Linked DNA regions of Homo sapiens: region 2 is linked to region 1. The links come from fine-mapping of genetic effects on gene expression. Tissue or cell type: lung. Region 1 holds a variant in brackets; the other region holds the start of a gene. All regions are shown on one strand. Distances are between the middles of the regions.

Region 1 (8,104 bases):
GATGGCTCAACTGTGGCTGGAGGGTCCGAGATGGCCCTGCTCACATGGCTGGTGGTTGGCTACAGTGCCTCACTTCTCTGCTCCATGGCTTTTCTGGCAGGATAGCCCGGGTTTCTTACATGGTGGCAGCAACGGTGTTCCTAGAGGACAGGCGCCAGTGTGCAAGCCCTTCCTAAGCCTCTGGTTCTGCAACCTTTGCTAATGTCCTCTTTGCCAGAGCATGTTACATAGATAAGCCCAGAGTCAGTGTGACTATGGATTCCAGGAGGTGTGGTTTATTGAGGGGCTAATGAACAATCTAATGTCACAATATACCACAGCCATGAAAATCAACCAAAACAAAAAGAGCATAGGGGAGCAAGGGAAAGATATGGGATGATCAACAAAGGCTCTTTCATGGAGGTTTTACTAACTTGAGGAAGCCAAGCCATGAAATATTTGGGGGAAGAGTGTGCCAGGCAGAGGGAACAGCAGATGCAAACTTCTTGGATGGGAACATGCTTGGCATGTTATTGGAACCCCAAGGAGTCCACTGTGGTTGGAGAGCAGGGAGTGGGCAGGGAAAGGATGAAGAGGGACGCAGTGGGAGACAGAAGCTGGTCATAGGGGGCTTTGCTAAGACGCTAAGGTACTTGAAGTTTTTTTTTTTTTTTTCTTTTGAGACAGGGTCTCACTCTGTCACCCAGGCTGCAGTGCAGTGGCACTGTCATGGCTCACTGAAGCCTCGACCTCCCAGGCTCAGTCCTTCCTCCCACTTCAGCCTCCCAAGTAGCGGGGACTGCAGATGTGCATCACCATCGCTGGCTACATTTTAAAAATTTTGTAGAGATAGGGTCTCCCTATGTTGCTCAGGCTGGTCTCCAACTCCTGGGCTCAAGTGATGCTCATGCCTTGGCCTCCCAAAGTGCTGAGATTACAGGTGTGAGCCATCATGTCCAGCCTTGGATTTTGTTCTAACTGTGATAGAAGCCCTTTGAACCAGGGGTTATATTTTTAAATGATCTTCTGATTGCTGCAGGGTAAACAGACTGTAGGAGGTAGGAATGAGAGCAGGGAGACAAGTTGGTAGTTATTGTGGAAGTCCAAGCCCTCAATGACTGTGCTTTTGACTGGTATGATTGTTGTGGGGTGGATGGGGCAGGTGGCTGGATTCAGAAGATCAAGTATGTGGAAGGTGCTGATGAATCTGATGTGGATGTGAAGGAGAATCAAGAATCGAAGATTATTCCTAGGTGTTTGGCTTGAGTGCTAGGAGAATGGGGGTCCCCTTGTTTGAAATGTAAGACTGGAGGTGGAATAGATTGGGTTTGACAGTCAAGTCCTGTTTGACATGCTACATTTGTCAAGTAGACAGCTGGATGTGTGAGCTTGGAGCTCTGAGAAAGGCTGGAGATACGAAGTTCACTTAATAGACCATGAACCAATTTTTCAAATTATTAAAGTATTATTATTGTTTAATTAATACATAATAGATGTACATATTTTCAGGGTATGTGTGATATTTAGATACATTCATATAATGTATAATAATCAAATCCAGGTAACTGGGCTATCCATTACCTTAGATGTTTATCTTTTCTTTATACTGAGAACATTCGGATTATTCTCTTCTAGCTATTTTGAAATATACAATAGATTATTGTTTACTGTACTCACTCTACTGGTTTGTTCAACACTAGGTCTTATTTTTTCTATATATCTGTAAAAAGTATTATTTGTAATGGCTACATAGTATGACATGGATGCCCCATCATTTCTCACTTTATTTTGAGACAGAGTCTCACTCTGTCACCCAGGCTGGAGCGCAGTGGCGTGATCTCCGCTCACTACAACCTCTGTCTCCCAGGTTCAAGCAATTCTTGCGCCTCAGCCTCCCGAGTAGCTGGGATTACAGGCGCATTCCACCGCACCCAGCTGATTTTTGTATTTTTAGTAGAGATGGAGTTTCACCATGTTGGCCAGGCTGGTCTTGAACTCCTCATCTCAAGTGATCTGCCCGCCTAGGCCTCCCAAATTGCTGGGATTACAGACCTGAGCCACCATGCCCGGCCCCCATCATTTCTTTAACCAAAATTCTATTGTCAGGTGCTTATGTTCATACTTTTACATTTTTATAACAATGCCACAGTGGACGTCCTTGTGGCTAATTCTTATTTTCAGCTCCTAGAAATGGAACTGCTGGATCAAAGGATATGCAAAAGTTTAGGACTTTCCATGGGTTTTGCCAAGTTGCCCTTCACCAGCAGTGTTGGAAAGGGTTCATTTCCCCATACCCTCAGCACAGGTGTATATTTTATTTTATTTTTTGAGTGTGAGTGTTTTGATGTCTAAGAGCTCAGGGTTAAGGAGGCTGTTGTCTCAGGTCAGAATGAGATCTTTACTGTTTTTAACTGGGTAGGGCCTTGGTACCTGGGGTAATGGGGAATACTTGGTCTTCTGCACAAAGTGGTCAACCTCAGCTGGGTGCAGTGGCTCACGCCTGTAATCCCAGGACTTTGGGGGGCCAAGGCAGGCAGATCACTTGAGGCCAGGAGTTCAAGACCAGCTTGGCCAACATGGCGAAACCCCGTCTCTACTAAAAATACAAAAAAATTAGCTGGTGTGGGGGCACATGCCTGTAATCCCAGCTACTTGGGAGGCTGAGGCAGGAGAATCGCTTGAACCCAGGAGGCGCAGGTTGCAGCGAGCTGAGATTGCATCACTGTACTCCAGCCTGGGCAACAGAGTGAGACTCAGTTTAAAAAAAAAAAAAAAAAAAGGTGGTCAGCCTGTGAGGACTTGGCCCTTTCCTTTTGCCTTGTGTTCATAAAGGTGTGCGTGTGTGTGTGTGTGTGTGTGTGTAACTCACAATTCTAAGTCATGATAAATGTTATGTCTGAAGGGTTCACTCCTCCCTCTGGGTTTTGAGAGTGGATTCTACCAGGCAATTTGTAATCCATCACCTTTCAATGAGTAGAAAACTAGGAAGTCTTTCCACCCCCAGAGAATGGGTCATTTCCTGGGCTTCCACCCATGTGGTCCCAACTGTTGGGAAGAGGGATAGGGCCTGGCCTTCCTTCTTGCCCACCGTGTGCTGCTCTGGGTGTGGGGACAGGGGAGGTGTTGAGAGGCTGAGGAGGACAGGAGACACATGGTGGCCAGGAAGGAGGATGGAGAAGCTGAAAGATGGGAAGGGAAAAGGGACAAAAATAGGAGAAGAAAGTAAAAAAATAGAACGATTTTCTTCAGCAGGGCTTCTGTGATGCTTGGAATGTCCTTCCAATGGGTCGTGACCACAACCGTGGTTGTTGCTCCTTTACAGGCAGGTTTATTGAGGTTTAGAGTCACCAATTTGACCCAAACTGACCGAGTAAGGCAGCCGCAGACACAGGAACAGACAGAGGTTTACTGCTCTCCTGTGGACTCCCCAAAGGTGAAATCTCCTGGAAGAGAAGAAAGAAAGATGAGGAGAAACAGAGGGCGAAGGGGAAGTGTAGACGTTAATGGTAATGATGTGATTAGAGGTGGCAGCCATAGGATTAATGACAATCACGATGATGGAATACTTAATCTGTCTCTAAAATGCTTTCCTTGGTGACTATTATGGATGACAATTATTTGAGAGAAATAGAGGACTGATAGAAACAAAGTAGAAACATAGAGACAGGGGAGGATGAGATAAAGAGAGGGAGATATTTTAGACCTGAGCTATCCAGTATGGCAGCCACTTGCCACATGTGGCCATTGACCAACGGAAATACGGTGAGTCCTAGTTGAAATGTGCTGTTAGTGTCAAATACACACCAGATTCCAAACTTTTTTTAAAAATTAAAAAAAATTTTTTTAAGAGAGATGAGGGTCTCACTATGTTGCCCAGGCTGGCCTTGAACCCCTGAGCTCAAGTGATCCTCCTGCCTTGGCCTCCCAAAGTGCTAGGATTACAGGGGTGAGCAGCCACCCCCAGTCCAAACTCTTAGTATGAAGGAAAAAAAATATAAAATATTGCATTGATAATTTCTATTTTCTGTTTTTTATTTTTTAGCGAGACAAAGTCTTGCTCTGTCGCCCAGGCTGGGATGCGGTGGTGCAATCATGGCTCACTGCACCCTTGACCTCCGGAGCTCAAGCAGTCCTCCTACCTCAGCTTCCCAAGTAACTGGGACTACAGGTACATGCCACCACACCTGGCTAATTTTTAATTTTTTGTAGAGGTGCGGGTCTTGCTATGTTGCCCAGGCTGGTCTCCAACTCCTGGGCTCAAGCAGCCCTCCTGCCTTGGCCTCCCAAAGTTCTGGGATTACAGGCATCAGCCACCATACCTGGCCTTGATAATTTTTTTTTTTTTTTTTTTTTTTTTTTTTGAGACAGAGTCTTGCTCTGTCGCCCAGGCTGGAGTGCAGTGGCTCA[A/G]TCTCGGCTCACTGCAAGCTCCGCCTCCCAGGTTCATGCCATTCTCCTGCCTTAGCCTCCCGAGTAGCTGGGACTACAGGCGCCCGCCACCACGCCTGGCTAATTTTTTGTATTTTTAGTAGAGATGGGGTTTCACCGTGTTAGCCAGGATGGTCTCGATTTCCTGACCTCATGATCCGCCCGTCTCGGCCTCCCAAAGTGCTGGGATTACAGGCGTGAACCACTGCGCCTGGCTGGCCTTGATAATTTTTATATTGACATGTTAAAATGATAACATTTTAGATATATTGGGTTAAATAAAATATATTAAAATTAATTTCACCTGTATGTACTTTCCTTTTTTTTTTTACCCCCTGAGGCTACTAGAAAATTTTAAATTACAAAGGTGGCTCACTGTATATTGCTATGGAACAGAGCTGTTTTTGAGCACTGAAGCGATTTCTCTGTTTTGCCATAATAGAAATCTTGGTCTTGATGAGGACTGAAAATCTGATCCCCCGAGAGTTACCAGGCAGCCATTGATTAAAGCAGTGCATGCATTCCAAAGATGGATGCGTTTGATTTTCCTGAACCAGAAAAGTGAGATCAAGACTCAGAAATAATAACCTGACTCCCTGCAAATTCAAATGGGTGCTTTAAGCAATATAGACTAGTAGTTAGGAGGGCTTGAGCTCTGAGGTGAGATTGTTTGGGTTCCAATTTGGTTCAGGACTTAACTAGCTAAGTAACCCTGTGCCAAATGATCTTTCCTTGCCAAGCCTCAGTTTCCTTGTTTATAAAATCAGGATTGTGGCTCACACCTGTAATCCCAGCACTTGGGGAGGCCAAAGCAGGAGGATTGCTTGAACTCAGGAGTTTGAGATCAACCTGAGCAACATAGGGAGATAGCATCTCTACAAAAAATAAAAAATTAGCTGAGTCTAAGTAGTGGTGCATGCCTGTGGTCCCAGATACCTGGGAGGCTGAGGTGGGAGGATCACTTGAGCCCAGGGAGATTGAGGCTGCAGTGAGCCATGATTGTGCCACTGCATTCCATCCTGGGCAACAGAGTGAGACCCTGTCTCAAAAATAAATAAAATAAAATGATCATTTTACATGAGGTTGTTAGGTGATTAAATGGAATCATGCATTCAGGGGCTGAGTAGATTCGAGTGCCTGTTACATGGCAAATTTTTTTTTTTTTTTTTGAGACAGGGTCTCGCTCTCTTGCCCAGGCTGGAGTGCAGTGGCGCGATCTCAGCTCACTGCAACCTCCGTGTACTGGGTTCAAGTGGTTCTCCTGTGTCAGCCTCCCCAGTAGCTGGGATTACAGGCACATGCCACCATGCCCAGCTAACTTTTTGTATTTTTAGTAGAGATGGGGTTTCACCATGTTAGCCAGGCTGGTCTCAAACTCCTGACCTCAAGTGATCCACCCGCCTTGGCCTCCCAAAGTGCTGGGATTATAGGTGTGAGCCACTGTGCCCGGCCACAAATTCTTAATAATTCTTGCTTTGCAATTTTTGATGATCATCCCCACTGCAGATTGGCAGAAGGGAGCTGAGGGTACTTGAGCCCTGTGTGGTGCTGAGCTCTGCACTGCCATCTGGGGAGATACCGTCCTTGCATGTATCATTCATTTATTCAGTAAATGTTAGCTGAGCCCCAAATGTGTGAGAAGAAGAAACCCATAGAAGGCTTCTATAGCATAGTGGCACACCCACTAGGCTGCAGGTGACAGAAGGGAACAGGATTCCTGACACTCCGTCTGGATCTTTGAATTTGCCCACAGACGATGCACCTCCCATCAGTGGCCGGCAGGCCTTAGTCTTTAAACCACATGCTCATCCCAACTCTAAGTTGGATAACAAAGTATGGGGTTGGGCCTTGCAACTTCTAGACTTGTCTTAAGCTTGCATGGTGAAGAGTTAAAAACTCTGATGTCTGAGCATCTGAAAAGCATATCCTGTAAAGGTAGGGGGGACCCTTCAGAGGTTGTCCAGCCCCATCTTTGCCCAGTGTCCAGATTTAGGGTGAGTGCTACCTCATCAAGCTCACTCTAAATGATTTTCTTAAATCAATTTTTTATTATGGAAAACATACATAAAATTTACCATTTTAACTTTTTTTTTTTTGAGACAGGGTCTTGCTCTGTTGCTCAGGCTGGAGTGCAGTGGCATGATCACAGCTTGCTGGAGCCTTAAACTTCTGGGTTCAGGTGATTGTCCTGCCTCAGCCTCCTGAGTAGCTGGGACTACAGGTGCACACCACCATGCCTAGCTAATTTTTAAATTTTTTGTAGAGGCTGGGTCTTGCCATCTTGCCCAGGCCAGTCTCAAACTCCTAGGCTCAAGTGATTTTCCCACCTTGTCCTCAAAGCGGTGTTGGGAATTACAGGCATGAGTCACTGTGCCCTGCCCATTTCAACTATTTTTAAGTGTATAATTCATTGGCCTTAAGTACACTTATAATGTTGTGTAACCATTACCACTATCAACTTCTAAAAGTTTTTTTATTGTTTCAAACAGAAATTCTGTATCCATTAAGCAGTAACTCCCCTGTACTCCCATCCCCTGGCCCAGCACATGGTAACTGTCATCCTACTTTCTCTATGAACTTAATACTCTAGGTACCTCATGTAAGTAGCATCATATGATATTTGTTATTTTGTGTCTCACTTAGCATACAATTTCAAGGTTCATGATGTATCAGCATTTCATTCGTGTTTATGGCTAAATAATAGTCCATTGTATGAATAGTCAGCATTTGTGTATTCATCTATCAAGTTGAACATTTTTTAGGTTATATTCACCTTTTGGTTATTGTAAGTAATACTGCTATGATCACTGGTATGAGAGTATCTGTTTGAGTTCTTGTTTTCAATTCTTTTTGGTGTATACCAGGGGCAGAATCACTGGGTTATACGGTAATGCTATTTTTAATTTTTTGAGGAACCACCATAATGTTTGCCACAGTGGCTGCAACCGTTTTTTACATTCCCACCAGCAATTTCTCTACATCCTTGATGACTTTTGTTATTTTTCATTTTTAAAATTATAGCTATCCTGGTGGGTGTGAAGTAGTATCTCATTGTGCATTTGATTTGCATTTCCCTAATGACTAATGATGTTGAACATCTTTTCATGTGCCTATTGGCCATCTGTATAGCTTCTTTGGAGAAATGTTTGTTCAAGTCCTTTCACAAGGCAGCCTTTAAAATTTTTTTTTTTTTTTTTTTTTGAGATGGAGTCTCACTCTATTGCCCAGGCTGGAGTACAGTGGTGCAATCTTGGCTAACGGCAACCTCTGCCTCCCAGGTTCAAGTGATTCTCCTGCCTCAGCCTCCTAAGTAGCTGGAATCACAGGTGTGCGCCACCACGCCCAGCTAATTTTTGTATTTTTAGTAGAGATGGGGGTTTCACCATGTTGGCCAGGCTGGTCTCGAACTCTTGACCTCAGGTGATCCTCCTGCCTCCAGCTCCCAAAGTGCTGGGATTTCAGGTGTGAGCCGCCACGCACGGCCAAAAGTTGTTGTTGTTGTTGTTGTTTTTGAGACAGAGTCTTGCTATTGCCTAGGTTGTAGTGTGGTGGCACAATCTCACCTCACTGTAGCCTCCGCCTCCCGGGTTCAAGCAATTCTCCTGCCTCACCTTCCCAAGTAGCTGGGATTACAGGCACATGCCACCACACCTGGCTAATTTTTGTGTTTGTAAAAATATTTTACAAATATTTTGTATTT
Region 2 (8,104 bases), 110 kb before region 1:
AAATATGAAAATCTGACTTGAATTTGTACTCTTTAAAGTTGCGTATCTGCTCTAGTGGGCAGGACCTAGGGCTTAAAGGGGAACTTCCTTTCTCCATTTCTAAGAACTGGGACTCTAAAATGAGAAGCTGGTTGTCTGAAGTAACCCTGCAGGTGTGGTTGGGGAAGGTCTGTTTTCTTGGATGAAGGAACTAAACTAAGCATATCAGAGCACTGTCTTAACCAGTTTTATTTCCCTGGAGATAGAATTCTTTTAAAAAGAGTTAGGGAGCTGGTAATAGGAAGTGCCTTTCATTATAACTACATTTTGCAGAGCTTCATATTTATATACAAGCCTCCTAGGTGATACACTGTTAGCTTGCAGACTTTCCTATGCTTCATTTCTCCTGTTGCTTTCAAAGAAGGCAGGAGACACGTTTAATAACGGAGTATCTGGTGATAAGAATTGCTTGGGCAAACCAGCTCATCTGGACTCTTTCTCAGTCTTGGAAGTGGGAAGAGGAAAACTTGTTTCCTTCCTGCTTCTTAAGGATATTCTGAGGGTACACTGATCAATAACACTAAATTTGGAATGAAAATACCATGTGATGAGTTTAGCCTGCTGATGCTTCCAGTAGATCCTTGTATAGTTTCAAGATTTAAGTTTTCCGATTTCATATAAATTTCTTAAAGTCGAGGACCTTATAAGGGTGCAATGGATGTTTGCTAAATATGAAAAACTGACTTGAATTTGCACTCTTTAATGTTGCGTATCTGCTCTAGTGGGCAGGACCTAGGGCTTAAAGGGGAACTTCCTTTCTCCAATTCTAGGAACTGGGACTCTAAAATGAGAAGCTGGTTGTCTGAAGTAACCCTGCAGGTGTGGTTGGGGAAGGTCTGTTTTCTTGGATGAAGGGATTAAACTGAGCAAATCACTAGAAGTATGCCCTGTCCCCTGCTCAGAACACTGGGGAGCTCAAGAGTGGGCTGCAATGTGCACCCCTCAGGAATAGCTGTGAATTGCAGGTCTACTGGCTTTTTGCTTTTTGTCTTTTGCTGCAAGGTACCCCACGTACTTAACCATTCTCAACAGTGTAAATCAGTGTCATTTTAGAATGAGATACTCAGCTTGCTTCTAAAGTCACTGAATTACTGAGTGAGTCTCTCCTTTAGAGTCTTCGGCAACCAAATTCCAGAATTGAAGAGTCTACTACTCAGAGGCAACAAGATTAAAAAAAGAAAACACAAAAACTGTTGAGGTGAAAAAAAAAAAAAACCCTAGCTAGGAACACAGAGAATGTTTTGTAGGATCACTGGGATATTTTCCACAACTTCCTCTTCTCTAGCACACACATCTGTTGATAGGAAATATTTGAGGGTTTTTCCACTACCAAATGGGAGCTTCATGGTCCTGGTGTCAAACACTATAAACCTTTGACCAGCTGAGCTGTGACTGCTGTCACATATCTGAGTCCTGTGTGCACAGTAATATCCTGGGTCAGGTAAAATCCAGGTCTTCAAGTTTTAAGGATTTTTTGAAGAATTCGGGCTTCTTTAAGACGATCCATGCCCAAATCCACAAGCTTGTTGACAGTGGATTACAGTTTGTGTGGCAAAGTCCAAGTTGTTACACTGTGCTTTAAAAAAAATCTTATCTGCATGTATTGTTAACTTAGAGACCATGAGATCTATTTATCAGGACCAGGAAGATACACACTTCAGGTCCATTGCAACTGACTTTTTTCTTGTTTTTCTCAAACCCTGGTGGAGCCTGGGAAGGGGGCCTCCACAATTCTGTGGCTTTGATATTAGCCCCAATTCTCACAAGCACATACAAGCCCCATAATTGCCGCAGGAAAACACAAGATGGAAAATTGCAATAACCCATGCACTGAGACTTAGAAAATCATCCTTACTAGGCAAAATGTATTATGATGCAATAAGTGCCAACTGATATTTCTCACGTTGGGACTGGCCAGGAACTGCTGCAAAGAAAAATAAGCAGCTCCTTCTCCATTATTTACATTTTAAGATGTGGTGGGGGGAGGTTGGGAGAAATTAGTTCTGAGGTTATCATATGCCTTTTTTAAAAGATAATGGAATAAAGCTATTTTTAAGTAAGTGCTTTTGTGATCTTGATTGAGACCTGGTTAGTAAATTGAAAGACTTGGAAAAACGAACTTGCCAAAAAAAATTTTTTTTACTAGCTTTTTAAAAATTGGTAACAATATTCTTCTCACCTCAGCCCCGCCTTTTTTGTTTTTTTTTTTTTTTTTTCCTCCAGACGGAGCCTCCATCACCCAGGCTGGTGTGCAATGGCAAGATCTCAGCTCACTGCAACCTCCACCTCCTGGGTTCAAGTGATTCTCCTGCCTCAGTCTCCCGAGTAGCCGGGTTTACAGGTGCCCGCCACCACACCCAGCTAATTTTTGTATTTTTAGTAGAGATTGGGTTTGGCCATATCGGCCAGGCTGGTCTCGAACTCCTGACCTCAGGTGATCTGCCCGCCTTGGCCTCCCAAAGTGCTGGGATTACAGGCATGAGCCATCGCGCCCCGCGACCTTACCCTTTTATTCTTTTCCATGACGTGTACATAAAAACGAGGCCTGTAAGACTCCAGGAATCGAAGGAATTTGGGAGACAAAAAATGGAGACTCAGAAAATTAGAGAAGAGAAAAATGGGAGGGGGGAGCCTGGACAATAAAACGGGGGTCCTCAGGAGGCAGGAAATTAGCGATTAAATGGGAGCAGAGGTGGAGGAGGCCGACACTGGTGCCAGAGATAAAAGTGGAGTCCCAAAAAAAGGGGTGCGCTGGGCCGTTTTTAAAATTGGGAAACATAAAAAATACCCAGTGGAAAATGAAGAGAGAGAACGGGGCATGCTAAAGTTAACATGGGCGGCGAGAAAGGGACAGGTAGCCAGCGGAAAAGGGGGAGACTGAGAAACCGGCAGGTTCAAAGAAAAGAAAAAAAAAAACCGGCCAAGCGGGGTGAACAGGAGTGTAACCCAGGAGGCCAAACGGGACACAGGAAGGACGTACCCAGGGCTCATAAAACAGGGGCCTGGGTAAAAAAACCCGAAACATTAAAACGGAGAGACCATGGTGAAAAAGAACACGGGAACCTCAGTTACCGTAGAAAACATAGGTTGCGTTAGGAAGCAAAGAAATTTAAAATGGAACCACTGCGATCCGGAGCTCTGGGACCAGTGACCGGCAAATGGAGAGGGCACTTGGAGGGAAGCGAAGAAAGGCGGGGAGAAAGGAATGAGAGGCGGGAGAGTGACTTGAATGAAGCTGACACCAAGAACCGCGGGAAGAGCTTGGGCCCAAAGCAGGAAAGGGAAGCGCTCGAGTTGGGGGTAAGGGGAGGCATTTTGGGGACAATGAGCTGAGCTCAGTAAGAAATCCCCAAGCCACTGATACTACTGGGGACCGGACAACTAAGAAATGGGGTCTTTCAGGCATGAAAAGCCTCCATGATGACTCCTGCCCTGGCCCTGGAATGTTAAAAAGGGGGCGTCTGACCCAAGCGAGCCATTTCTTGAGGCTATGCGGGTAGACAGGGAGAGCAGGTTTCTCAGGGGGACGGGGACAGGCGAGGCTGTCGCCGTAGGTAGGTAAGGGGACAGTCTTCTTCCGAATCGCTCCTGCCCCGTTTTTTATCTCGTTCCCACCCCCACTCCGGTTTTCACCCTGCCCTCCTCTCCCCACCGCCCCGTGTTCTCCTCACTTCCCTCTCCCATTACCGGAGCCATTGAGTAGCCCCCCTTGTTTTACCCTAGCCTTGACCCTCGCCGCACCCCCCAATTCTTACGTCCTCCCCAGCACCCGGTTATTACACCTTCCTTCCACCCCCTCCCCATTTTCCCCTAAGCCCAGCTCTCCCCAGGTTTCTTCTCGGCCAGTATTCCCTCCAACCTATTTCTCCCGCCCCCATTTTTACCCGTTTCCCCCCTCATCGGCCTTCGCATGGCTCCATTTTCACCTGCCCCTCCCCTCGATTTCGCTTCAGCCCCTTTGGTTCCCCTTACCCCCACAGCCCTCGGTCTCCCTCTCTCCGTTCTCCCCGGATCGCCGCTTCCCCTGCTTGGTTTTTCTCTCAGCCCGGCTCTACCACTCTCCAACACCCCCTTTTCCCCTGAGCCCGGCTTCCCCTACTCCGGTTTCTATCGCTCCCCTTTTCCCGGTTTCCCTCAGCTCTGTTCACCTCCCTCCCTTCCCCGTTTTTATCCGGCGCTGGTTCCCCTCAGGACCCCGCACAACCCCTGGGTTTTATCCCGTTCGCGCCCCACCCCGTTTCCGCTCAGCTCCCCCCACCCCTGCCCCATTTTTATCTGGTTCGCGCGTCTTCCCCGCCCCCGTTTCCCCTGAGCAACCCCTCAGCTTTTATCCCGTCAGCGTACCGCCTCCCCGATTTTCCATCTTTTCCCTCAGCTGCCCCCCACCGTTTTTATCCCGTCCGCACCCCCCCTCCGTTTCCCCTGCGCCCCGCCCCCGCGCGTCTCCGCCCGCGCCCACCGCCATGTGACGGGAAGCAGCTGATGGCCTCTCCGGGCGGCGGCGGCGGCCTGGCCGGGGCGGGCGGCGCGGGGGCGGCATGAGGGCCCGCGGCCCGGGGGGCTGAGGCGCCCGCCGCCTGCCGCGGGGGCCGCTCGCGTCCTCCATGGAGGCCGGAGGTGAGTGGGGCCGGGCGCGCCCGTTCCCGCCCGGCGGGGCCCTGGCCCGTTCTCCCCGGGGAGGGGGGAGGCGACCCCGGGGCGGGCTGGGCGGGGTGGGGCGGGGGCTGGACGCGGCGGGGGCGTCCGGCCTGGGAGGTCCGCGCGGGGCCGGCGGGGGTGCGCGCCCGGCGACCAGCTTTGTTTCACTTTCGTTGTCAGTGGCCGCCACCCTGACTCCCGCCGGCGACAGGATCGGGAAGATCGGGCTTCTGCGGGAGGAGATCCCCCGACCGGGACAGAGGGGGCTCCCGGGTGGGACTCGGGGCGGGGGGCACCAAGCCCTAAAACGGAGATCCCCAAGGGGGTGGGTGCCCCTGGGTACCCAGGTGCCAGGGGACGCACTTGCATGTCTGGATGGGAGTCACCTCTGTCCCTCACAAGCTGTGTGATCGTGACAGTGGACAAGCCACTGAACCACCGCCACCCACGTCTCAGTTTTGATCTGCAAAATGGGATAATCCTAGTACCTTCCTCGGAGGGTGGCTGGGACCCGGTAAAAATGGGGTCTGGGGTCTGGGTTCCCTATTGAAACAATCTATTCCCAGCCTCTCCCACTGGAGATTAAGTCAGTGGAGGTGGGGCGGGACTGGAGACGCTGATCCCTGGTGACATGTATGATCAGGCAAATTTAGGATACACTGATGGGTGGGGACCTTGCCTCTATTCTTGTTAACTGCCATCCCCATCAGAAGACAGCGTGGAAGTCAGAGGATATTGGATATACCTCAAGCCAGCCCAGATGAACATAAAATCTCAGTGGGAAAGGTGTGTCTCTTATGCAAGGGGAAAAAAACCCCAAGACGCATGCACGCCTTGGCCCTCTCCCCTCCAACGACCTTCCCTCGGAACCCCACTTGGGATAGATTTAGAATTGATTCCGGGAGTCCCAGGTCTTGAAGGACCCGAGTTTAAATGTAATTTCCTTAGGAGAAATTTTCAGAGCAGGTTCAAGGCCTAGGGCTCAGAATTTGTTCCAGAACTTCATGGTAATCTTGCAGCCAAGTTCAAGCTTCATCCTGGTCTGGAGGGTTCTGATTGCTGATGGCTTGTTACTGTGGGTGGGAAGGTTGAAATCTGGGTATTCCCTGGGGTGGTGTTACTTTTTAATTTAGGAAATGACATTTCTTTGTTTGCTGAAGTCAGGCATTGAGTTAAAGGCAGCTCTCTCTCCTTCCCATCTAGATAAGGGCTTTCTTTTCAGTGAGTGTTACCCGTAGAATTCTTTTTAAAAGGGCCCCTACTGTTTGTGTAGATCCTATGTGAATCTTTTTATAGCTTCCGTTTGATTTCCATTGCCTCCTTACAGTTCAATCTGAAAGCAATCTGTAGCTAGCCTGCCTTTTTAACAGAAATCTGTTTCCAGTTCTGGGGTTTTCCTAAAGATTGACAACTTCGTTTTGAGGGTGTGGGCAGGGTTGTTGAGAGCTGCCAAGTTACTGTACAAAAAAGGCCAGAGTTTTAACTTATTTTCAAATGGAATAAAGCCCATTGTAAAGGAAATACAATGGGCAACAGTTGAAATCTTCAGAGCAATGGTTAGACTTCACTTATTCATTCAGCAAATATTTGTTGAACGTCTACTATGTGCCAGGCACCCTCTAGGCCAGCCCCGACCAACAGAAGTCTAATGTGAGCCACGTATGTAATTTAAAATGTTCAAGTAGCCACATTAAAAAAAAGAAAAAAGAACTAGGTGACAATTTAAAAACTCTTTCAATACAACATGTCTAAAATATTCCTGCTACATGTAATCAAATAAATTGTAATGTAATGTTTTAGATTTTTTTTTGTGCTAAGTGTTCAAAACGTGTTGTGTATTTTTTACTTACAGCCCATCTGAATTCTGACTTGCCACATTTCAAGTGGTTGGTAACCACATGTGATTTCCCTATTAGACAGTGTAGCCCAATAGCAGTGAACTGGCAAGTTTGGGTGGGTTCAGAAAGAGACAGACAATAAATACGTAAAAATGACAGGCAATCAAGAAAATATCAACCAAATGCGCCGGGGTGGCTCACGTCTGTAATCTCAGCACTTTGGGAGGCTGAGGCGGGCAGATCACTTGAGGCCAGGAGTTCGAGACCAGCCTCACCAACATAATGAAACTCCGTCTCTACTAAAAATACAAAATTAACCAGGCGTGGTGGTGCATACCTGTAATCCCAGCTACTCAGGAGGCTGAGGCAGGAGAACCGCTTGAACTGGAGAGGTGGAGGTTGCAGTGAACCAAGATCTCGCCATTGCACTCCAGCCTGGGCAACAAGAGTGAAACTCCATCTCAAAAAAAAAAAAAGAAGAAGAAAATATCTAAGTGATGGTTATAAAGAAAATCAAATGGTTAAAGGAAAGTGAATGGTGCCAGGCGCAGTGGCCCAGCAGTTTGGGAGGCCAACTTGGGTAGATCACTTGAGCTCAGGAGTTTGAGACCAGTCTAGGCAGCATGGCAAAACCCCATCTCTGCAAAAAATACCGAACTATAGGCGCGTGCATGGTAGAATGTGCCTGTAGTCCCAGCTACTGGGGAGGCTGAGATGGGAGGATCATCTGAGCCTGGGGAGGTCGAGGTTGCAGTGAGCCGTGATGGTGCTACTGCATTCCAGCCTGGGCAACAGAGCAAGACCCTGTCTCAAAAAAAATAAAAAATAAAAAAGGAAAGTGTATGGTCGCTTTAGATAGTGAGGCCAGGATGGTCTCTGAGAAGGTGACATGAGGACCAATCCCTGAATGATAAGATGGAGCAACTGAGGAAAGCTTTTGAGGCCGGTGGAATATCTAATGTACATGTCCTGATACAGGAAAAATCACCTAGCTTCCTGCTGGCTGGGGTCATAGCTTTCATCTCTGTGTTAAGGCTAACTGCTTTGCCTAGAAGAGGCTTATAATATATACCTTTCCATTCAGCCTGATTGTCCAAACACATCCCATTGTTTAATTAGAACACCCTGATCCAGGGCCAGGTGCAATGGCTCATGCCTGCAGGAGAATCGCTTGAGCTCAGGAGATCAAAACCAGCTTGGTCAACATAGCCAGACCCCCATCTCTACTAAAAATTTAATTTAAAAAAAAAAAAAATGCTGAGTGTGGTGGTACGCCCCCGTAGCCCGATACACAGGAGGCTGAGGCGGGAGGATCACTTGAATCTGGGTGGGAGATTGAGGCTGCAGTGAGCTGTGATTCAGCCACTGCACCCCAGCCTGGGTCTCAAAAAAAAAAAAAACCCAAATATATATATGAATATGATATACTTGAAATTTGCTAAGAGTAGATTTTAAGTGTTCTCACCACACAAAAATAAGTATGTGAGGTAATGCATATATGGTAATGAGCTTGACTGAGCCATTCCACAATGTATACATATATCAAAACATGTTATATTCCATAATATATACAATTTTTATTTATCAGT

The links. PIP is the estimated chance that this variant, and not a neighbour inherited with it, causes the effect.
Region 2: WSB2 starts here. The variant in region 1 is fine-mapped to the expression of WSB2 in lung (TOPMed, PIP 0.94).

Annotation. Positions count from the first base shown.
Region 1 is chr12:117,952,486-117,960,589 of GRCh38, reverse strand. The region is part of intron 1 of KSR2 (kinase suppressor of ras 2); the gene reads left to right. Among named protein-coding and RNA genes, the nearest start is that of KSR2, 12 kb to the left of the region's middle. The variant A/G (reference allele first, on the strand shown) is at 4,387.
Region 2 is chr12:118,057,588-118,065,691 of GRCh38, reverse strand. It overlaps WSB2 (WD repeat and SOCS box containing 2), which reads left to right and starts at 4,513. Exons shown (of 9, transcript NM_018639.5): 1 at 4,513-4,656. The coding sequence starts at 4,644. It overlaps VSIG10 (V-set and immunoglobulin domain containing 10), which reads left to right. Exons shown (of 9, transcript NM_019086.6): 9 at 1-2,099. LOC124903030 (a long non-coding RNA gene) reads right to left here and starts at 4,232. Exons shown (of 2, transcript XR_007063479.1): 1 at 4,012-4,232. RefSeq lists a silencer at 5,054-5,103.